Linked DNA regions of Homo sapiens: regions 2, 3, 4 and 5 are each reported to be linked to region 1. The links are microRNA targets in miRTarBase. Many come from high-throughput screens and were not tested one by one. Region 1 holds a microRNA gene; each other region holds the end of a gene's coding sequence.

Region 1 (3,173 bases):
GAAAATTAGCTGGGTCTGGTGGCACATGCCTGTAATCCCAGCTACGTGGGAGGCTGAGGCAGGAGAATCGCTTGAACCCAGGAGGCGGAGGTTGCAGTGAGCTGAGATTGTGCCATTGCCCTCCAGCCTGGGCAACAAAAGCAAAACTCTGTCTCAAAAAAAAAATTGTTACTCCTTTATTGTTTTTTTAGTTGACACATAATAATTTGTAAATATTGATGAGATATAGTGAGATGTTTTGATACATACATGCATTGTGTAATAATCAAATCAGGGATTTAGTATTTTCATTACCTCAAACGTCCATCACTTCTTTGTGGGAAGAACATTCAAAACCCTCTCTTCTAGTGATTTTGGAATATACCATAAAATATTGTTAACTAACTATAATCAATCACTCTTCTGCACAATAACACATCAGAACTTTTAGCCCTCCTAACTGTGACTCTGTACCCATAAACCAATTTTTCCCCAACCCCCCTTTCCCTTCCCTTCCCCAGACTCTGGTAACCATCATTCTACTCTCTACTCCTATGAGATCAACTTTCTTAGACTCTGCGTATGAGTCAGATCATGCAGTGTTTGTCTTTGTGTTTGCATTGCCCTATTTTGTGAGCATTCGTTTTGGGGTTGTTTGTTTCATTGTTCACATGTTTATTTGCATGTGTGGCATGCATGTGTTCACATGTGTTGCAGATATTTCTTGGTCTAAACACTGGTTTGCAAGTGCATGACTGTGGTGACTACTGCTTCTGCTGCTGTAGGCCTTCATCTCTGAACAGAGGATGCCAAACCAAGGCCCCAATGATATAAAGAAGATTCAAATTGGAAAGAAGAGAACTCTCCAGCACTGCTTCAACTGAGCTCTATCTGGCCTGCAATCGCTAGATATGATGAGTCACTTGAGTGGTCCTTTCTATGTAATGACTGGCTTTTGAGGCATATGAAGTAGTTGTTCATGTGCCAACTATATTAAATTGAAAATTAGCAGAACAATTTAGTGAAGTATGCTAAGTCTGGGAGGAAGAGGGAAAATTTTCTCTCTCCTAAAATCTGTCTCATTAAATGTGCAGCAGGTGAAGTAATTAATAAGCATTCAGTGAAAGACATAGGAGACAAAAGGGAGAGGAAAAAGGGTTTGTTTTTTTTTTAATCTATTGACTATATTCTGCTTATTCCTAGTGGACTGAGAGTGTTGGGATTCTGACTGAAATGGCGGAGTGAGGGACATTTTCCGCTGTGCTGTGTGTAGTGCTTCACTTCAAGAAGTGCCATGCATGTGTCTAGAAATATGTTTTGCACCTTTTGGAGTGAAATAATGCACAACAGATACAAGTCAGAACTACCCACTCAGTGATGGGTCAACTCATACAACCCTTTAAAGAGAATTCTGTGGGGTAAAACCTAGAGGATGAGGTTCTCTGGGAATAGCCTCATCTGTAGTTTCCCCGTGTTACTATTAAGATGGTCAGTGCCACCACCATCAGCCATACTATGTGTAGTGCCTTATTCAGGAAGGTGTTACTTAATAGATTAATATTTGTAAGGCACCCTTCTGAGTAGAGTAATGTGCAACATGGACAACATTTGTGGTGGCATTGGTAATGACGAGTGGAATTTCAGTGACAATACTGCCCTCCCTTGAGCCTTGGTACCCAACCTTTAGTGATGAGCCATTTCCAGGTACTCTCTGAAGTACCTCTTGAGAGATCTGCTCCAGAATCTGAGGGTGCCTGGGAAAAGTCTCTCATGTAGGTTTTTCAATTATTTATTGCTTTTTCTCCACAAAATGACTGACTACACTGGAAACAAGATTTGAGGTAGGAACATGATACTTCTTTTTCTCTTGTACCTCTTAGTCTTTTCTCTCTATAACAACCCAAATACACTTCTTGCCTTATAAACCCCTGAGAAGTTTACACTGATCTTCTTTCCTCACAATATTTAAGCCTTCTTTTTAGGGAGCACAAATATCCTCCTGCCCTTCCCTGCTGAACTCCAAACTCCATGAACCATCTTTCTTATGAAGTGATCTCCTCAAGGCTTAGATACACTCAAATTCCCTTTAATATTCCTGTGTATCCGTGATGATAATCTCATATCAGTGGAGTTTGATATGATACCCCAAATTTGCTTTCATTTGAACTATTTATATGTTTTTAGCTGGTCTTAACTATTATGGGAACGGATGAAGTGATGAGAACATATATGTATGAACATGTGTGTACATATACTTCTGGAAACTTTACATATACAAAGGGGTTTATATATCCCTTTATATATATATATATATATATATATATATATATATATACACACACACACACACACACACACACATACATATGACATTCACAGAAAAAGGAAAAGGATGCAGAAAAAGGATCATGTTCCTACCTCAAATCTTGTTCCCAGTGTTTTGTAGTCCTTTTGTGGAGAAAAAGGAATAAATGCTTAAAAAACCTACAGGACATACTTTTCACAGGTACCCCAGGCACCCTCAGATTCTGGATCAGGTCTTATAAGACCTTCAAAGAAACACCCAGGACAATGATTGAGCAAATATATATGTATATAATTATTATAGAAGTCTATTTTTAAAATAAATCCCTTAAGATATTTATTATAAGGATACTGCAAGGAATAACCTCAGGCAACTATGGAGGCTGGTGAGTTCCTAGATCTGCAGGGGGATGGGTCAGCAAGCTGGGGACCCAGGAGAACTGATGGTATAGTTGCAGTCCAAGTCCAGAGGCCAAAGAAGCAGTAGAACAAACCATTTTGTAGTTCCAGTCCAAAGGCCAGCAGGTTTGAGACCCAGGAAGAGCTAATGTTTTAATTTGAGTACAATGCCAGAAAAAAATGAGATGCCCCAGTTTGGAGGCAGTCAGGCAGGAGGAATTCTCTCTAACTTAGGGGAGAGTCAGCCTTTTTGTTCCATTTAAACCTTCATCTGATTGGTGCAGGCCCATCCATCCACATTAGGGAGGGTGGTCTGCTTTACTCATTCTACTGATTTAAATGCTAATGTCATCCAAAAAGACCTTCACAGAAACACCCAGAATAATGACTGACCAAATGTCTGGGCACTCCATGACCCAGTCAGGTTGAAATATAGAATTAATCATCACAAGTTCACTCCTTGTCATGTTGTCACTTATACGCATCTCCTT
Region 2 (3,000 bases), not on the chromosome of region 1:
GCCCATGCAGCCGCCCGGCTCAGGTGTGCGCCTCCGTGTTCGAGTCTCCTTCTCATTTCCGCGTGTCTGGAATGCCACCAGGAGCCCCAAGGCACAGCACGTGCGAGGCAGGGCTGCGGCACACACTGACCATCTGGCCTCTGAAAGGTAAGCGAGGCAGGGCTGCGGCACACACTGACCATCTGGCCTCTGGAAGGTAAGTGGGCATTTTGGTTCCCTCAGTGCAAATGTTAGACAAATTTGTTGAATGAATTAAAATCAAATTGTAGGTACTTGAGATTCTGAACTGTGGAGATTTTGAAACATTGTTTTTATTTCAACGTGCACTAAAAAAAGGACTAAGTAAAACGATGGGAGTCGAATTAAACATTCAACAAGCAACAGTACTCACTGGGCAACATTTGTGAGTCGCGCTTGAGTGCCCAGGTCACTTGTCATGGGCACAAAAGCATTTAGAGTTTCTGGAAACTGTTTGGGAGTGACCTTAACAGCCTGGGGCTGGGCCCACGAAGCACGGAAAGGCACCCCCTGAAAACACCACCATCCAGGAAGAACGGGCGCTTTGGAAGCCATTTGAGAACTGTTAATTGATTACTTTATTTCATATAAAAGTTACATTGAAAGAAGAGGTTGAAAAGTCAAGTATACTTGATTTGCACACACTTGCCAAGTCTCACAGGATTCAACCACTTGGATAATTGTTTTATTGATAACAGGATATACATATTAAAAGCCTCACACTGAAGCCCACACGCATGTCCAACCCAGACAACAATGTGCAAATGAATATGCAGAACAATCTCGGAAACTGGCGTCTCCAGGATCACCCACACTTTGTCCCTCTGGCTGTGACGCAGCTCTTCCCCCAACGGCGCACACGCTTCTGCGGTGACCAAGTCCACTTCCAAACCCCCTGCAGGTTTGCTCGCTTGGCTAGGACGGTGGCTCAGGTAGGTCCCTTTGTGGTTTTGCATCAGCAGTGGTAGAAGCCCTGATTCGGATGGGGTACAGAGTAATTAAAAACAAAAAACAGTTCACAGATGAACAGAAAGGCAAAACAATTCCCAGGAGGGAGACGCCAACTTCTCTTAGTGTGGAGGGCAAGCATAAAGGAAGACCCTCAGACTTTGTCACAGATTGCTTCTTGATGCGTCCGGCAAAAAATGTACAAACCAGGCAAGTTTAAGGCAAGGCCCCACGAGGGGAGCTGTTGGCTTTCTGGCATAATTTTAAGCTCCGCACCAAGGATCCTATTTTATCACCTGTGCCGTGGGTGGAGAAGAAAACGTAAAAGCTAACCAAAAACTCCAACAAGAGGGCGCCATCCTGGCCATTCCCGACTGGAGCGCTGCCTGCGGTGGCACAGTCGCCCCTGCCAGGGGCTGGCTGCCTCATGGTCCCCTCCCCTTCCCAGAGGTGCCCAATGGCTGGGCCCTGCCTCTCCAGTAAGGATGCCTCCCCTGCCCCACACACAGCATCGGGCTGCCCCAAGTATCAAGTCACCGAGCCGCAGCTCTGCTCTTACCTAGGTGCCATTTATACACTGCTAATTTGGCTGGAACAAAAAAAAAAAATCAGTTCCAAGGCCCTCAAGCACTCAAGATTTCTTTAAAAAATGAAAGCAGGAGGGCAACGAAGGGCCGCACAGGAACGGCTGTTCTTTGGATCGAGATGTCCTCCAACAGCAATACATTCATAGTAACCACGGGCAGGACCCCGCGGCTCTCTCCCCTCTTCCCTGAAACGTCGGTTTCTAAAAAATAGCTTGTTTGCTGTACACAGCCGGTAAATGTTACATTGCCTAAACAACACTGGCAATTTTGACACACATGCACACACGCGCGCACACGCACAGACACGCACACACACAGACTTGCTGAGAGGGTCAAAGGATGTCTCTTCCGGGGCAGCGGGGAGTGTGCCGGAAGCCACCTTCACTGTTCAGTGCACAGATCTTTTGCAACTTCAGTGCAAAGCATCGGAGCTAATCGAGACCAAAACGTCTTTCTATGTAAACGCCCTGCTGTGATCCGGGGAGTGCACTGCTGAGTGGCGGGGTCAGCAGGAGCCCCCTGAAATGACTGCTTGGAGAATCCCTGTTCACTGGATTCACTGTTTTTCTTCATGATTGGAAACAGCAGCTCAGGACCCAGGATTTGAATAACCCATGTAATAACCCGAAGTATTCTCCACAGAAGCCCCAGCTCTGCAGGAGGCCACGGCGTTTGGCTTCTTCGTGTGGCCACACACCTTTCCGTTGTTGTACAGGTGGGGACTGAGAGCCTCTTCCTCTGCCATCTGTGACTATAAATATATAAAACTCTGCTTGCTGCAAGCAATTGGTTTGTGTAGGTTCCAGTTGCCCTGTTGGTCACAGATGAGCTGTTGATATCCTTCAGACCCCAAATAAATAACTGGAAGTCTGTGAGCAAGTTTCAGTCTGATGAGCCACGCCTCACACTGAGAACTCCGGGCCACCTTTTCTGGGTCTCGTGGGCAGTCGCCTAAATCGGAAGCCCACAAAGGGATTCATCCAGAGGAGTGAGGGGGGCCCCCCAAAGACGGACTTCATCCCTTCCCATCGCAGCCTCCGCTCCCATGTGGGCTTCTCACTTTTCAATCGCTCGATCTCCTGGAAGCAGAAAGAAAAGCAAGTGGCAGCGGCTCCAGGAAGCTCGGCAGACCCCACCAAGCCTCAGAATCACACCGTGCTCAAGCACAGTGTGGGCTCGATGGAGGGTAGGTGAGTGAACTCTCCTTCCCAGCTCTGCCCCGATCCAGACCCCGTGGCCTCTGTGAGCCCAGCCCGGCTGCAGCCACGTGGCCAGCCCAGACTACCACAATGGCCCTCCCAGCCAGGCACCAACATTTGTCGCTCGTTAGTTACTGTGTACAGACATTTACTGAGCGCCACTCCAGGCCTGCAGAGCCAGGCCCTAAAGGCAGTCAGTTCCCTGAAATTTACTGACTGCACTGGGAGCTGGGAATCTGCCTGGCTCT
Region 3 (3,173 bases), not on the chromosome of region 1:
AGCTCAGAAAGGAAAATAATCTCTTCTCTTCCACACTTATTCATGCCAAACTCCCTGTATATTTTTGACATTTCTAGAAAGAACCTTAAAATAATTTTCAGCTCACCTTTGACCTTTATATCTTTGATATAACTTTGGAGCATAAAATGTATTGGTTCTTCCAGATTATCAATAAAGATACTGAATAGAATGGGTTCTATGATAATTTCCATGGGATGCAGCCAGTATAAAAACTTTATGTGGGCAGAAACCTGTCTACCGCATCCACTGGTGAATCTTCAGAGCCTATTACGGTGCCTGGCACACATTAAATCCTTAAATAATGAATGAATGAAAACTGAAGGAACGGATGGATATCTGAATGGGTGATAACCTCTTAAATGCATAACAATCAGGGATATAATATTTTACATTTTTCTTGGAAATTCTGTGTGGGCTGTAGGGATTACCTGCTTCTGCTACACACTAACTGCATGATTTTGGACAAATAACGAGCCCTCTATGCCCGATCCCTTATCAGTCAGTAATGATGACCCCTGTTTCATAAGCTTGTTATGATATATTACATGTAAAATACTTGCCTTGGTTCATAGGAAGATTTCTGTGATGTGAGCTATCACTTTTCCCATTGCATAGTTTCCATATTTGAAATTAATACATAGTATTCAGATGAAAACATTATCAGAATTATTATCGCAACTTTTACGGGTAAATATATAATCATTTCTTTGCTTGCCACAAAATCATTTCATCCAGGTTAGAAGCTTGCTCTCCATGATGGAACCAGAATGTAAAAATGTTGGTGCACATAAGGATTTAAAGTTGTAAATAACCAGACCAGTCACAGTGTAGTAAAAGAAGGATTTTAGGTTTCTTTGGTGAAACAAAAGCAGATATAAAAAGTTACAAAGATTTTAGATTTTCATTCACAAAAAAAGTCATTCACATTTTACACTATACACGTTATGATATAAATACAGGAAAGTATTATGTGCATTGTAAAGAGAAAGGAAAAATAGAAACCTACTAGATCAACACAGTGTTGTTCTGTGCTCTAAAATACCTAAAGGTGGATTACATTTAATGCAACAACCAAGGGAACCTGCTTAAACATACTGTGTATTATTGTAGCTAGAGTCATTCCTTCTAAGCCAAAGGAGGTTTTATAAAAAAAGAATCAATATTGGGCCAATCCCTTTGTGCCCTTTTTCTCTTTTTCTATGTGCATTTTATTTTTTGTCTACTCTTCTTCAAGTTGCTCTAAACTGAAATTAGGGAAGGAGTCTTACTTTCCATTACAGGTTTTTCTTTAAACATTAAATTAAGTGGATAAGGATTCAAAGTCATCTTCAGCAGTCACTTTATTCAAATAATGGGGAGAAAACAGAGTGGGAAGAGATGGGGAGAAATGTCAACACATACACTCCACCTAACAGGAAGAAATGCCCACACTATTTCTATATATTCGCTCATTTCTTAGAATGGGCAAACACCTTTTGCTAAAAGCTATATACTTTTCCACTCTTTTCATAATAAACACTTGATGCATTCTATCCGTCACATTATTTAATCAGGGACAAAGTACCTATATTATATGATTCCAAATTGTGTGAGGAAAGTAAAAGGCTAACACTGAAAAATAACTAGCATACTATGTTCATTTTCAGGTCTTAGGGAAAATAACATCCAATAAATTAAATCAGTATGGCTTACTTCATTTATTTATGTATGCTTCACAGCTGCAGCATTCATACATGAACATTCAAAACTTTATAAAAGATTAAAATGGTTATATATACAAAATTTCTTTTTTTTTTTTTTTTTTTTTTTTTGCATGTGTTTTAACAATCCCCCACCCTCCAGAGCCCTAGGTCTATATCCGTATGAAATGCATTGATCGGTAACCTTATGAGTTAGTGTTATGAAAGCCATTAAAAAGTAGACCTGGTTGAGTTAATTATTAGCACTTTGACCCCTAAAAAATGTTCCTGGTTACAGAAAAGTCCTCCATTCAGGCCTTTCTTGTAAGTGAAGAAAAAGGAATGCAGCAAAGAAGAGTTCGACATTGGAGTCCTTAGTTCCATCAGGATCCCATTCGCAGCCTTTAGCATCATGTAGAAGCAAACTGCACCTATGGCTGAGATAGGTGCAATGACCTACAAGATTTTGTGTTTTCTAGCTGTCCAGGAAAAGCCATCTTCAGTCTTGCTGACAGTCAAAGAGCAAGTGAAACCATTTCCAGCCTAAACTACATAAAAGCAGCCGAACCAATGATTAAAGACCTCTAAGGCTCCATAATCATCATTAAATATGCCCAAACTCATTGTGACTTTTTATTTTATATACAGGATTAAAATCAACATTAAATCATCTTATTTACATGGCCATCGGTGCTGAAATTGAGCATTTTAAATAGTACAGTAGGCTGGTATACATTAGGAAATGGACTGCACTGGAGGCAAATAGAAAACTAAAGAAATTAGATAGGCTGGAAATGCTTACTTTCTGCTCTCATTTTCTTTCATTTTGTCTGCTGTCTTTTTGAATGCCAATACTTTCATTTAAAATGTTTTGGGAGCACGGCAACCCAAAATGACTGAACGGTGGTCCAAAAATCCAAACCAACTGATAATTACTTCTCGAGGTGATAGGAAAGGCACAGGAAGTTAGGACTTTGGCTGAAATGATGAAAACACATGTTCGCCATTTTAGGGATCAGCGCCTCGACTCCTGCCACCTCCGGCTCCAACGATGATCATGTTTGGATGTATTTATTGAATTGTCCTTTGCTGATGAGGAATTTTTAAAGTATTTCATAGAATAAGTCCTTTGGTATGCAGATGCTACATGGAAGGAAAGAAAGAAAAAAAGAAAACACACAATATTACTTGCTCCATACCCTAAACTGCCGATACCACAGCCGTAAAATGAAGGTGTCTAGTAGTTGTTATAGCACGGTAGTCCATTCTTTCTAAAGGACCACTTACGGTTCATGCAGGTAATTTTAGGTATAGCCCATCTTCCATTTCCTAAGCACCGGATAGTTGGAAGGTGACGTTGAATGAAACCATCTTTGCAGTGGTATCTAATCAGGGAGTTGATTTCATAACGAGGTTTCATCTTTCCAAAGGTCTTGGCATTTTCTACAACAGGGGGCTGGCCGCAAGCGACTA
Region 4 (3,173 bases), not on the chromosome of region 1:
CATGCATGTAAGAGTTATATTTCTGAACTTTCAGTAAATTGGAGATGTTTTTATTGCTTACCTAAGACAACTGCCAATATTTCTTTCTGGCCTATTAACAGTACATACATAGTGTTACTGCCTCAAAGAGGATTATTTTCCCAAGTGGTAAAGAAAACAAAAATATGGTGATGACTTAAATTTCTTAATTCAACTTCTGTAATGCATAGAAGCTAAATTATAAAAATATAAAATCTAAATATATTGGTATTACTAATACATGTTTAAGTGTTTCGGTTACAAAGAATCTGATCCAAGTTACTGTGCTTTACTAAGAAACCAGTGTCTAATAATGTCCAAATAAGGTCATAAATATACAGTGTCTGTAGAACAGGAATAATACATTTACATGTTATAGGAAAGATGGTAAATACTCATTTCTTTGCTTGAGTTGGAATTAACACATACACTGTACTAGAGGTATATTCCACTCTAAGACTGTGTACGCTCTTCCTTTTTCTGTACACAACTTAAAACTGTACATTTTTTTTACAAAAATTGATTTTATAGCCTATTATTTTTTTCTTAACACAATGCAGATAACATCAGGAAATTACATATTTCAAATAGATTGCCTTCAAAAGCAACTAATTAATGACAAATTTCAAACATACACTATTATTTTCAAGAATGGTGTAACTGAAAGACTCATTTTTCTATACAATCAAGCCATCCATTTCTGCATTATGAAGAGTTTAACTACTGAATTTTAATTTTATAGTTAAATATATTTGTTAGAAAAAAATAAATATACAAAAAACCTGAAAAATTTGAAATTATTTTTCAACTGCAAAATCTCAGCAATGCAGTCAAGATCTGGAAAATGGTTTACTTAATTTCACAGGAGAATTTCTGTACAAATTTAGTTACAAATGATCTAAAAAGCCCAAATGTATCACTTTTTCATTCTTCACGACAGTTAAATGACAGCTAATATTTATCCTTATCAGAAATAATTATGTAATGTATTTTGCCAAGGTTCAATTGCAGACTTTATTTTTCTACATCAGGGTCATGCTGATACATATTTTCCCCATCCTCACTTTTTAAAAATGTAGTATCTGAAAATTTTGATTACATTTTTGTACCATACCAGTCCTCAGAAAATACTACATTCTTTAAATTTTTAAAAAAATGGACAGTAATTTTTAAACAATAGAAATGGTAAGTATGTTGGTTTTTAAGGTATAAAATAACTAACTGTACCATAAACAAATAAATAACTGCTTTCCTTTTCCATAGCAGTACATATAGCAATACATTCTCCTAAGTCATATAGTTATCATTTACAATAGACAACTTAATTTTACTAATGATGCAAAAAATAATAGAATACAAGGCACAATCATTAAATGGAGTTTTTCTTTAGGGTGTATATTGACATACCAGCATGATAAGGATACCGTAAAAAGTGCAGAAAAAACACAATGTGCAATGAGACCACTGTATAAAACATGATTGCATAAAAAGTGATTTGGCCTATTTTAACCTTTAATAATTGAAAATAACCAATTTCCCCCTTAAAATTAAACTATAAAGTATGACATTTTAAAATTATTTTTATTCTACTGCTATCTAAAAAATCCTGAAAAAAGAATTTATACCTGGGTAATAGTATATAAGTATGTGTTTGTATATATATTTAATTATACCCATTTATCAATATATACACATACACACACAGACACGTTTCTTTGTAAGTCATTTTAGGCTATTAGATATGTCTAAAGTTTAGAAATGACATTAATCCAGATCAACAAGTAAACATCAAATCCCATACCTTTTTTCCTGTATTTTCCTTGAATCCTTTAACCACTTAAACATTTCCTCTAGAACATCTCTGTCAAAGGACCCACCAGTGCATTATTTTCTATTAGTACCAAAAAAAGATATATCTCAGCATAACTCTTTAATAACTTGCTCTTTAGAATATATAGCCTTTCCAATATTGAAAAGTGTATGCTGTCCTGACGTCAAAAACAGGCTTTCCACTGCACTGATTCTCAGTCTTTGGCACAATAAACAGAGATTGAGTGATATAAGAATCAAGGTCTGAAAAATTAGACAGTCAAATGTTTTCCAATGTGGATATGTTTCCCTTCATCAGTACATTTTCTCTTGTTTGGCAGAAATGGAATAAAGCAAAAGCCTCCTCTAGATACTTTGTAGATGAACATTCTATAATTAAAATTAAACTGTTTAGGGTATCAAATGGTGGAAATTTTATATTTATCTTTTAGAGGAAACATTTCTTAATTCACTGCTACTCTGTATAACATCTATCTTTTAGGGGCATGACTTGTATCAATAGAAATGTACCTCACTTGGTCAAAAATAATTCATTTTAACATGAAATGCTCTATCACTAGGAATATTATGCTCCTAAAGAGTGTAGCAGAATTGTCTTTTCTATAAATAAATCAGGAATTCATTATAGATCAATTTCTTTCGTTTCAAACAGTGAATGAAATGAATGTGAAAATGCATAACCTATCTAAGGGCAATAAATAGCAAACATTTAAAATATATATGTATATATTTATATATATATATATATATTCATTTAAAGAAGTGAAGTGTCTCGTAAGTTTGTTTTTTTTTTTTTTTTTTTTTTTGCAAATCAAATCATAACATTCCCTACTCCACCACAGCAGCAAGGAAGCAGAAGCCTTAGTTCTACTTATTCCTTAACTGTACCTGCTTTATAGATTTTGAAGTAAAATATTTTGGTACAAGTTACCAACCAATTAAATTAGCTTTTGCTTTTTCAGTCAACTTTCGGACTCGTCCTCTACTAGAAGTTCCAAAAGTTAAAGAGGTGTCTTCGAACAACAGCTGCCTTTGCTCCTCTTCAGAGTCATCCTCATTATAGAAAGCTGTCCTTCGACCTTGATTTCTAGTTCTCATGTGGGGTTCAGAGCCTTTGAGTTCTTCAAACTCTTCTTCCTCATCTATAGGATCATCTATCTTTTTTCGGTTACTTCTCCTTAACACTTTGACACTTGCAGGGACTAGGAGATCTGCATCTAATTTTTGTGTCTTCATCTTCCTTTTGGGCTTCCTACCTCCACGATTCTTTTTCTGTAACAAATCTTCCTTTACATTATTAGTTTCAGAAAGAAAATTGCATGTTG
Region 5 (3,173 bases), not on the chromosome of region 1:
CATTTTGAGGGGAACATATATCCCCCCGGGGAAGTTTCCCAGTGGGATGGAAATTCGCTGCCACCGGTATGGGTGGATGACTGAAGACTTGATGCAGGACTGGTTGGAAGTGGTGTGGAGACGGAGGACAGGAGCAGTGCCCAAGCAGCGAGGGATGCTGATCTTGAATGGCTTCCGGGGCCATGCCACAGATTCCGTGAAGAACTCCATGGAAAGCATGAACACTGACATGGTGATCATCCCAGGGGGTCTGACCTCACAGCTTCAGGTGCTGGATGTCGTGGTCTACAAGCCACTGAATGACAGTGTGCGGGCCCAGTACTCCAACTGGCTTCTGGCTGGGAACCTGGCGCTGAGCCCAACCGGGAATGCTAAGAAGCCACCCCTGGGCCTCTTTCTGGAGTGGGTCATGGTCGCGTGGAATAGCATCTCAAGTGAGTCCATCGTCCAAGGGTTCAAGAAGTGCCATATCTCCAGCAACTTGGAGGAGGAAGACGATGTCCTGTGGGAAATCGAGAGTGAGTTGCCAGGAGGAGGAGAACCACCAAAAGATTGTGACACCGAAAGCATGGCTGAGAGCAACTGAAGGGAAAGGGAAAGGTAACCACTCAGGAGTAGATACTCAGTGCCTTTGCTGACATGTCTGTGTTCTACAAACACCTTCTCTCCATTATTTTTCTGTTTTTAAGTTCCCTTAGAGCCTACAGTGCAGTAGTGTAGATCAGGGGTCCCCAACCCCCAGGTCACGGACCATACTGGTCCATGGCCTGTCAGGAACTGGGCTGCACAGCAGGAGGTGAGCGGCAGGTGAGCAAGCATTACCACCTGAGCTCCGCCCGCTGTCACAGCAGCGGCATTAGATTCTCATAGGAGCACAAACCCTGTTGTGAACTGCACATGTGAGGGATCTAGGTTGCAGGCTCCTCAATGCCTGAGGATCTGAGGCGGAACAGTTTCATCCCAAAGCCATCCTACCACCCACTACCCCGCACTTCCTGGGTCCCTGCAAAAATTGTCTTCCATGAAACCAGTCCCTGGTGCCAGAAAAGTTGGGGACTGCTGGTATAGATAACAGACCATTAGCATTTTCTCCTTTATATGAAACATTTATTATTTGATTTATTTGTGTCTATTTTGCTCTGTGGCTTGGACCCAGAAACACTTGTATAATAGGTGAAATGAACAAAGAATGAGCTGCCAGAACATCTGAGAGCTGTAAAGTTAAAATTATTTGGACCCAAAGAAGCATAGTCTGACGTTGTTCAGTTCACACAAAATTTTGTCTGAAAAGCCAACTTTTTTCTTTCCCTTTTAAATTATGCTGAACATTTAGGGCCAGTATGTGTAACTGACATGCTGGGACAGTTGTACTCACTTTTGCTGGCCTGTAGGACTGTGACATAGGGAGAACACTAAGTGTGTCCTCCGGGCCTCGGGTCTCAGTCCTGGAGCTATCTACAGTATGTTACCAGCGAGTAAGAATAATAGCTTCTACTTGCTTTTCCCTACAGAGTTCAGGAGTTTTAAAACGTCATCTTAGTCTCATTATGACCTTCACATGGGCTATGACAATAATTTCCTGTAGTCAGCAGATGTCTGAAGGAAGATATTTTTTAACTGAATCTTTACACCAAAAAAAGAAAATAAAACGGTGCGTATCTAGGACTCTAGTGAGGGCTGAGGACAATAGGCCTGGAATTTTCTGGGTTGAGTACACAAGAAGAACAGCTTTCAAAGGAAAGTAGGAATGGAGGCCTAACTGAGACAACACTAGTGAAATGACCCCACCCACCTACACCTCCAGAGAGGAGGAGGATGAGCATGTACAGCAGGGGGGACACCCACAAAGAACAAACAATTCATTTACCTGTTCGTTCTCATCTCCCTAATTATAAATTAAATTGATCCTCCAGACAGTGTTTTATATGAAGGAAGAAGCCACCTTTTTTACAGAGGACCTGAAACCGTCAACCATCTTCACACATTCTTTTTCTTTCTTTTAAAGTATAATTAGGTATTTCCATCTTCCTTGCTTTTTTCTCCAAATGAAATGCTAATGGGAGCCTTATTTTACCCACTTCAGCTATATAAGTCCATCTGTGTTTCAAAGAGTGACTTATGTCTCCTGCCTTGCTTCCAAATTAAATTGTACTCATATTGCTGAATCCCATTGTAATTCTGGGATCCCTGGAATTACAATGGAGCAAGAAGTTCTTACTATTACATTCAAAATCACCAAAATTGCTTTTTTTTCCCCCTTGGGTCCTCCTTGCTTTGAGAAACCCCATGAATCCAGCCTCCCTTTTCTGCTGACCCTTATATTGCCTGCATTGGATATCAAACTGAATTACATTGAGTTTCCATCTTTTCTTCATTTACCTTTTGCTTTTCCCTCTCCTTGTTAGATAACATTTTTGTGCACTTTTAATTTCCTAAGCTCCTTACCACCTCAGGGACATGATTAAAAACTTCCAGAAGAGGAAAGGAGAAAAAGCTATGCTAAGTTGCATTTATGAATGTTGGCCTGTAATATTGGTCATGAGCTTTTGCTCTTCTAGTCTGCCACAATTCTCTCTGCAGCTCCTGAGGAAGTGATGGGAGTAGACAGATTCACAGTGAACAAGAGATTTGGGAGACCAAGTGGGCATAAAACTACGTCTTGGCCTCTATTTGGAAATCTGAATGATGGAATTATTATGTTTGTTAAAAGTTATACCAAAAAGCCAAGGGTTAATTCATTTAGGTTCTCTCTGTTTTCCAGCAAATGGAACTCTGATTTAAACAGCTGGGGATGAAATTCCTCAAGATGATTATTCCTGAAAGTGTGGATGCGCTGGATGCGCAGGGAACATCAGGAAAAGGCCACGGGGCTCTGAACAGCCCCGGTCCAGACAGCAGCCTGTACATCCATCCCAGGACACAGCCCAGCCCCTCCCCACACCATACAAGGTATCAGAAAAGTCTAGGACCTATCATTTCATCAGAGACATGATCAGAAAAGAAACTGCTTCTGCCCCATTTCTTGTTTTGGAGATTACTCCATCTGTCCATCAAAAGAAACCTGTAAATATGAAAGAACAAAGGTTATTTCCTGGAGAAAAGACAATTTATTCAACACCAACGAGGGACTCATCATATGGGCACAACTCTGGTGTCCTTCTATGGAGAAAACC

The links. Region 1 holds the annotated microRNA hsa-miR-507 (UUUUGCACCUUUUGGAGUGAA, at 1,295-1,315, shown strand). A microRNA usually pairs through its seed, bases 2 to 8, with sites in the 3' UTR of a target mRNA and lowers its output. Matches are read on the target gene's strand: a 7mer-m8 pairs with bases 2 to 8, a 7mer-A1 pairs with bases 2 to 7 and ends in A, and an 8mer does both.
Region 2: miRTarBase lists ZDHHC7 as a target of hsa-miR-507. Seed matches in the 3' UTR shown: 7mer-A1 at 1,956-1,962, 7mer-A1 at 967-973 and 7mer-m8 at 653-659.
Region 3: the mRNA of VCAN is a reported target of hsa-miR-507. Seed matches in the 3' UTR shown: 7mer-A1 at 1,829-1,835.
Region 4: miRTarBase lists PHIP as a target of hsa-miR-507. Seed matches in the 3' UTR shown: 7mer-A1 at 2,651-2,657.
Region 5: miRTarBase lists POGK as a target of hsa-miR-507. The part of its 3' UTR that is shown has no 7-base or 8-base seed match.

Annotation. Positions count from the first base shown.
Region 1 is chrX:147,229,144-147,232,316 of GRCh38, reverse strand. MIR507 (microRNA 507) reads left to right here and starts at 1,240; the gene lies at 1,240-1,333. It overlaps MIR506 (microRNA 506), which reads left to right and starts at 1,474; the gene lies at 1,474-1,597. The region is part of intron 2 of LOC105373347 (periphilin-1); the gene reads right to left.
Region 2 is chr16:84,973,888-84,976,887 of GRCh38, forward strand. ZDHHC7 (zDHHC palmitoyltransferase 7) reads right to left here. Exons shown (of 8, transcript NM_017740.3): 8 at 288-2,632. The coding sequence ends at 2,456. Among named protein-coding and RNA genes, the nearest start is that of ZDHHC7, 36 kb to the right of the region's middle. RefSeq lists an enhancer at 2,444-3,000.
Region 3 is chr5:83,579,977-83,583,149 of GRCh38, reverse strand. VCAN (versican) reads right to left here. Exons shown (of 15, transcript NM_004385.5): 14 at 2,988-3,170; 15 at 848-2,843. The coding sequence ends at 2,716. Among named protein-coding and RNA genes, the nearest start is that of VCAN-AS1, 19 kb to the right of the region's middle.
Region 4 is chr6:78,937,918-78,941,090 of GRCh38, forward strand. It overlaps PHIP (PHIP subunit of CUL4-Ring ligase complex), which reads right to left. Exons shown (of 40, transcript NM_017934.7): 40 at 1-3,173. The coding sequence ends at 2,776. It also overlaps a transcript of IRAK1BP1 not described here. Among named protein-coding and RNA genes, the nearest start is that of IRAK1BP1, 72 kb to the left of the region's middle.
Region 5 is chr1:166,849,824-166,852,996 of GRCh38, forward strand. POGK (pogo transposable element derived with KRAB domain) reads left to right here. Exons shown (of 6, transcript NM_017542.5): 5 at 1-600; 6 at 2,762-3,173. The coding sequence ends at 586. Among named protein-coding and RNA genes, the nearest start is that of POGK, 12 kb to the left of the region's middle.